Homo sapiens: one gene and its partner. The protein of the gene in region 1 purifies or fractionates together with the protein of each later gene. This does not show direct contact. Each region holds a gene or a part of one and is shown on either strand. Other genes may lie near its edges.

Region 1 (3,914 bases):
CCCTCCCAGTGCCTCAGAATTTGTGATCCAGCATTGTCATCAGCAAGTAGCCACAAGTGACATATGAGGCCATCTTAAGGGAAGGGGCAGCAGAGAGTTAAAAGGTGGTGGATTGGGACCGGTAACAGCAGAAATAATCACAAGATAGTGTTTCTTTGGGAAATAACCTATTTTAAACATCATGAGGTGTGCGAAAAGACAAGCTTTAGAGGAATTGAGGTTTCTACCTTTTAGGCACATTCACCATATAAGATCTCTGATTAATATCAGTAAGGGCAGGAGGAGGAGGGACTCCTCACCTTGCCAAAGCAATTACTGTAGTAAGTCACTATAGTAAACACTTAAAAATAACAGAACCTCATTTCTCTAGTGTTGTTCAGTATGGGAGCCACTAGCCACATGTGGCTACTGAGCATTTGAAATATGGCTAGTTTAAATTGAGATGTTTTGTAAGGGCAAAATACACACCAGATCTCAAGGACTTAGTATGAAAAAAAAACCAGTATAATTTTTATATTGATGACATGTTGAAAACAATATATTGGTTACGTTGGGATAAATAAAATATTAGTTTTGCCTGTTTCTTTTTACCTTTATAAAACGGTTACTGGAACATGTAAAATTATGCGTGTGGCTCACATTATATTTCTGTTGGACAGTGCTGCTCTGGTATACTCAAAAATAGAATTTGATCTATAAGCATCTTTTTAGCAGTACATTTCTTGCTTTAAGTAAGTGTACCTGTACACCAGAGACAGGCTCATTTCAAAAGAAGGACAGGGAGGAGTGGCGATTTGAAAATGGGGAAACTGATTATAGAAGAAAGTCAGGACTCTGCCTCAGTTACCTGTCAGTCTGGGGGTGGGGGATGCTGGGACAGGGGTCAATTGCCTGAAGCAAGTGCTCTCATCCCCCTAGCTCCTGCTGATCTAGTTGGGGCTCCAGAGTGGGGAGGAGAAAGGCACTTTGAAACTTCTCTGCCCTTACCGTCTTAGCCATCAAACTCTGAGCTGGAGATAGTGACGATGTGACAGGAACTTTCCCTGGGCCTCTCTGGGCCACAATTCCTGGCCGAGAGAAAGAGGAGGAATGAGGTGAGCACCTTCTTCACTCCTAGGGCCATGTGGTAGAGCTGCAGTCGCACCTCCTTCTGCCAATAGGCATAGATGAGTGGGTTGAGCAGGGAGTTGCCCACGCCGAGCAGCCACAGGTACCGTTCCAGCACTAGGTAGAGGTGACACTCCTGGCAGGCCACCTGCACAATGCCAGTGATAAGGAAGGGGGTCCAGGATAGAGCAAAGCTCCCAATGAGAACAGACACAGTACGGAGAGCTTTGAAGTCGCTGGGAGTCCGTGGGGATCGATAACCTCCAGCCATGGCTCCTGCATGTTCCATCTTTCGAATCTGCTGGCTGTGCATGGAGGCAATCTTGAGCATGTCGCAGTAGAAGAAGACAAAGAGGAGCATGGCTGGGAAGAAGCCAACGCAGGAGAGGGTCAGCACGAAGTGAGGGTGAAATACAGCAAAGAAGCTGCACTGCCCTTTGTAGGCAGTCTGCTGGAACATGGGGATTCCGAGTGGGAGGAAGCCAATGAGGTAAGACACTAACCACAGCCCGGCAATGCAGGCCCCGGCCACGAACCCACTCATGATCTTCAAGTAGCGGAAGGGCTGCTTGATGGCAAGGTACCTGTCAAAGGTGATCAGCATGACCGTGAGGACAGAGGCAGCTGCGGAGGAAGTGACAAATGCCATCCGCAGGCTGCACAGGGTCTTCTGTGTGGGCCGAGAAGGGCTGGAGAGCTGGTCTGTGAGTAGGCCAGAGATGGCCACACCAATCAAGGTGTCAGCCACAGCCAGATTCAAGGTGAAGCAGAGACTGACACCATCATTCTTGTGGATCAACAGCAGCACAGCCACAGCCACTAGTGTGTTAGTAGCAATGATGAGGGAGGCCAGGACAGCAAGGATCACTCCAAATGAGAAAGATGATTCCATGTCTCGAAGTGGCAGGACTTCACTTACCAGGGCATGCTATCTCTCCAGCTGAAATTCTCATGGGCCAGGGGCAGAGGAGCTGTGGGTTCAGAGCTACAGCACGATTCTGGCCTTCGCTGGCAGTCCAGGCTGGCAGGTCGCCATCTTTGGGATCCTACAGGTCATGAAGAATTACTCACCCTCTCTTTTCAGTCCTCAGCCTCCTGCCTCTCCAGCTCTCTAAAGGCAGCAACTTCAGTATAGACCTCCCCCTGGGCCCTGAGCTAGTCCCTCCCCCTCCAACCAGCAAGTTACTAGACAACTCCCAAGTACCTGTACATGCTGTCTCGCCAGGCCCTCTCCCTTCACTGGTGCTTCAGGGACTCTGGAGGGACAGGGACATTCATCAGGTCTCCTGTCTGTCAAAAGATATAATTGACTCCAATCATACTTTTTTCTTCCTCCATACCTTGACATTAAATTTCTACTTTTCTTCCAAAACCTCGAGTACCAGCTTAAATAATTAATCTCAGCTTAATTAAGCTTTTTCTTACTAATTCTCAATTACTATTATGAATTGCTTTTAATCAAGCAAGATGCTCATAATCAGTTGAAGTGGGAAGTGAGGGAAGGTGAGCTTTTTGAGGGGCCCCAGCATATTTTCAGGAGTGCTACCACACATTTAAGCTGTTTCTTACCTTTTGCTTCCTAGCGCCTCAAATTCTAATTCTCTCAAGTAGGGCGTGCTGTTCCCCCGTTTCTCATCCCTAGGATCTCAGTTGAGGATTCAGGACAGGAAAAACAGGGCCAAAAACTGTTAACAGCTGTCATTCAGTTTAGAACCCATTCTCCACCTCACGCTGCTGTCTCTCAAGTATACTAATTGATAATTATTTCTGCAGCATGTTGGGCCAGGTCTGGTCAGTGAGTAGTGGCTGCTGGGCTTGCCTTTCTTAATCCTATAGACCTGAGGTATCTCTGCGGGAGGAGAAGAGGAGATGAGCTGCATTCTGGGAAGTGTCTGCTTGATGTTTGGCTATGGAATTTTCCATTTTCCAGGAATAGGAACGTGGGGGCGGTTGAGGGGGGGAGGTTAGACCAAAGGGCAACTGTGTTGCTGAAGCAGGTGAGATGCACTCTGGAGGGGCAGCTGCATAAGTCACTCCTGTTTTAGGATGTGTATCCATTTGCTTGGGTACATTAGAACTACCCTTTCGCCTGCCACTCTCATCTTGGATACCAAGAAGAGAGGGGTGGGGAGAAGAGTGGTTAGAAGCTTATTTACTCAGTTCAGGTGAGAGCACAAATGGGAAAGGTTAGTGTTTGAAGTGAGGGAATAGAGAGCAAGGTGCAGAGTTGGACGCAAATATATTCCAGGATGTTTTGACAGTCTGAGAGGGCCTTTGGCAGATGTCTCTCCTAAAAAAGGATCAGAAAGACTGTGTTGTGGGGATTCAGTATTCTAGTTGCCATCCTGAAAACAGTTCTTATTCTTTGGTATGTCCATTAGGAGATTGATTCCAGTTGCTTAGAACCTAGCCTAATTTTATACCTGGACCTAAGGTGTGCTTGGGTTTCCCCAGCTCTTGACTCCACGGAGTCAAGTTAGCCCTTTTCAAACCCATGTTCAAACTTGAGAGTGTATCAGAATCACCTGGAGGGTGTCTTAAAACCCAGGTTCTTGGGTCCTACTCCCAGAGTTTCAGGTCATTGGTGAGTCTGAGAATCTGCATTTCTTTCTTTCTTTTCTTTTTTATTTTTATTTTTATTTTTTTTTTTTTTTGAGAAGGAGTTTCGCTCTTGTCGCCCAGGCTGGAGTGCAATGGTGTGATCTCAGCTCACTGCAACCTCCACCTCCCAGGTTCAAGCAATTCTCCTGCCTCAGCCTCCTGAGTAGCTGGGATTACAGGTGTGCAGCCACCACGCCCAGCTAATT
Region 2 (3,814 bases), on another chromosome or scaffold:
GGGGGGCATTTCACTTGAGGCCAGGAGTTTGAGACCAGCCTGGCCAACATGGCGAAACCCCATCTCTACTAAAAATACAAAAAAAAAAAAAAAAAAAATTAGCCAGGTGTGGCAGTGCACACCTGTAATCCCAGCTACTTGGGTGGCTGAGGCATGAGAATTGCTTGAAGACAGGAGGCAGAGGTTGCAGTGAGCAGAGATTGCGCCACCGCACTCCAGCTTGGGTGACAGAGTGAGACTGTTTCCAAAAAAACCCAAAAACCAAAAACAAAAACACTGTGACGAATGGCACCTTCACCCATCACTGCCAGGCCTTTCCATGTGGTTCTCTCCCTGGGTCACCCTCTTCCTGCTTCTTGCCTGGAGAACAGCCAGGAGGTATTAACGTAAATATCACCTCCCCAACGCTCCTTCCAAAAACAGATGCCAGGGCCATCCTAATTAAATCAGAATGGCACTGGGAGGGTCCTGGGCACCCTTTTCTTTCTTTCTTTCTTTCTTTCTTTTTTTAAATTGACATATAACCCAAAGTACGCTGGTAAATGTCTAACAACCAACTCTCCAAAGAAAGAAGCCCTGATCTGGCTGGATGTGGTGGCTCACGCCTGTAATCCCAGTACTTTGGGAAGCCGAGGCGGGCAGATCACCTGAGGTCAGGAGTTCGAGACCAGCCTGGCCAACAAAGTAAAACCCCATCTCTACTAAAAATACAAAGATTAGCCAGGTGTGGTGGCCCACACCTATAATCTCAGCTACTCAGGAAGCTGAGGCAGGAGAATCGCTTGAACCCAGGAGGTGGAGGCTGTAGTGAGCCAAGATTGTGCCACTGCACTCCAGCCTGGGCGACAACAGCTAAGCTGTCTCAAAAAAAAAAGAAGCCCTGATCTGCAGTGTTTACCAATTTCTTTGGTGTAAATACTCACCACAGCTACTTCAAGCTATCAATATGATATCATTACAGAACTGGGAAGGGATGTGTTCCCAAATGTAACGTGTGAGCTGGCTCCTGCACACTCTGGGTATAACTTAAATACTGTAAGCCAGGCGCGGTGGCTCACGCCTGTAATCCCAGCACTTTGGGAGGCCAAGGTGGGTGGATCACGAGGTCAGGAGATCAAGACCATCCTGGCTAACATGGTGAAACCCCATTTCTACTAAAAATACAAAAGGGCAGGCCTGATACTACCCTCTGGCTTCCGTTTTCTCCTCTTTTTGCCTCACCGTGCTGTCAGCTCCAGAACATGCCCTTGGGAATGAGCAGCCTCCCATCTCCACATTCTGGCCCCTGGAGTCCCTGCACTTCCTTCTGATCAGGGAAGTGATTCAAGGTGGGACATGATCCCCTTTGAACATCGGGACCTGAGGCTGAGGGCATTAAAAGAGTCACCCTCTCTCATGCCCTGCTGCAAGAAAACAGCCCCTGATTTATCAAATGCCTTTTCCTGCCCCTCCGAAGAACTCAGCAGTACGGCATTTGTTTGAGAAATCCCCCCTGTACAGGTTTTCAGCGACTCAGAATGCTCTACTGCCTTCATTTTGAGAAAAGACTGAAATACCCTCCTGCTGTATCCCCAGCTCTGGTGGGGTCTGGACTCATGTTGGTCTCCTTGGAGTTGTGTAGTGTACCACCTGAACAACTGGGTGGCTGCAGCAGAGACCACTGTGTTCTGCATGTCACATCCTCTCCAATGACACCAGAGGTCACTGCAGAAAGTTCCCCATAAACTAATGGCATCTGCATTAGTCTGCATCCCGGGAGCAGTTCTCAGCCAGCGAGGGATGGGAGCTGGTGAGTGACTATCCCAGCACCGCCAGCCTCGGCGGAGCAACTCTCAGCAGAGCAACTCTCAGTGTGTTACGCACGGCCTCCTGGGGCACAGTGGGAGTGCATGCCAGCTGCCTGAAGTGGTCACCTGCTTGCTTGCTTTCTTATTTATTTATTTATTTATTTTTGAGAAGGAGTCTCACTCTGTTGCACAGGCTGGAGTGCAGTGGTGTGATCTTGGCTCACTGCAACCTCTGCCTCCCAGGTTCAAGCTATTCTCCCGCCTCAGCCTCCTGAGTAGCTGAGTACAGTCATGTACCACCATGCCCGGCTAATTTTTATATTTTTTTAGTAGAGACGGGGTTTCACTATGTTGGCCAGGCTGGTCTCCAACTCCTAACCTCAAGTGATCTGCCCGCCTTGGCCTTCCAAACTGCTGGGATTACAGGTGTGAGCTACTGCGCCCAGCCTCACCTGCTTATTAATTCATACTTCACTGATGTCCTCCCTTCCCTGTCCCCCAGTGTTTCCTGGGACCACCTTCCTAGGAAGCCACTTCCACCCAAATCCTGGTCTTGGAGTTTCCTTTTGGAGGCTCCAAAGCCAGGTCGTGGCCCTGCCCTGCCACCTCTTCCGGTCACTTGCTACCCCACCACTCGGTTTTATTGCTCTCACGGTTTTTCTTACCCTCTGACATGATCTTGCACATTTACTTGTACATGATCTCTTCCTGGTAGAATGGAAGCCCCAAGAGAGCAGGGAATTTGTGATCTTGCTCGCTCTCCAGCACTGAAATTGTGTCAAGCACACAGCAGGCGCTCAAGAAAAACAGATGCAATGGCTCATGCCTGTAACCTCAGCATTCTGGGAGGTCCAAATGGGAAGACTGCTTAAGCCCAGGAGTTTGAGACTAGCCTGGGTAACACAGCAAGATCCTGTCTTTACAAAAAAATTTTAAATATTAGCCATGAGTGGTGGCATGTGCCTGTGGTCCTAGCTACTCGGGAGGCTGAGGTGGGAGGACGGCTTGAGCCCAGGAGTTTGAGGCTGCAGTGAGCTATGACTGCACCACTGTATTGCCGCACAACCTAAGTGACAGGGTGAGACCCTGTCTCAAAAAAATAAAATAAAACCATGCAAATCATGGGCAAAAGCCTGTGTTCTCAAAGCCAAGACTAGACAGGATAAACCTTACTGTCAACCCTTGTCCCCAACACACGGGCACATATTCACACCTCCATGTGCACACACGTACACACAGTCACATGTATGTGTACAGTGCACACATGCATTTGCATACCCATGTGCACACATTCACACACACACACCAGTGTGTCATACCTCTCCAGTGGTGAGAAATCTTCAGCATAAAACATCTGTCCCTAAAGCCAAGCAGCTCTAACAGCCTTGCAGTTGCGGTGCTGATTCAGTGCTTGCTTTTTCAGCAGCATCCCTGGCTTCTGGGCCCATGAATCAATGTGCCCAGGGGAACTGGCAAACACACCATGAGGTCTGCCCAGTAAACAGCCACTCCACCTCTCTGGCCTGGTCAGTTCTTGGTGACTTTGCCCATGATGGGGGTGGCAGTTTGCCCCTCCCAAGCCCTCTGGGTGGCGGTGGTTCAGCAACTGACCTGTTGATGAACTCTTCATAGCAGGAGTAGATGGCAGCCAGGCACACGGCCACCAGGTTGGGCAGGACCCGGGGGTGGGGGCAGTGCCCTGTGGGGCCGTGCATGCTGGAAAAAAGCAGAGGGCTGGGGTGAGAAGCCTGCAGGAGTGGGGCCCATGGACAGGGTAAGGGGGGAAAGGGAGGGCGTTGCTCAGGCACGGGGCTGCCCGCTCTGCCAGCGCCACTTGGGGGGCTCTGAGAGCCTTCACTGTGCAATTGGTGGCACCAGGATTTGGGCCCCGGCTGTGCCACGTGCAGGCAGCAGAAGGCAAAGCTCCTGGCTGTGGACTCCGGATCCAGGGTTCCCGGGTTCAAACCCCTGAGTGGCCTTGGAAACCTCCTAAACTCTCCACCCTGTTTCTGCAGCGATAAAATGAG

What was found.
Region 2: the proteins of GPR119 (region 1) and CMIP purify together in Homo sapiens (affinity purification with mass spectrometry; one large-scale study listed by BioGRID and IntAct). This does not show direct contact.

Annotation. Positions count from the first base shown.
Region 1 is NC_000023.11:130,383,449-130,387,362, forward strand, and holds the start of GPR119 (glucose-dependent insulinotropic receptor), read right to left. Parts: upstream 2,227-3,914; 5' UTR 2,000-2,226; coding exon 992-1,999; 3' UTR 988-991; intron 1-987. UniProt on the Homo sapiens protein: Receptor for the endogenous fatty-acid ethanolamide oleoylethanolamide (OEA) and lysophosphatidylcholine (LPC). Functions as a glucose-dependent insulinotropic receptor. The activity of this receptor is mediated by G proteins which activate adenylate cyclase.
Region 2 is NC_000016.10:81,671,655-81,675,468, reverse strand, and holds part of CMIP (C-Maf-inducing protein), read right to left. Parts: intron 3,504-3,814; coding exon 3,399-3,503; intron 1-3,398. UniProt on the Homo sapiens protein: Plays a role in T-cell signaling pathway. Isoform 2 may play a role in T-helper 2 (Th2) signaling pathway and seems to represent the first proximal signaling protein that links T-cell receptor-mediated signal to the activation of c-Maf Th2 specific factor.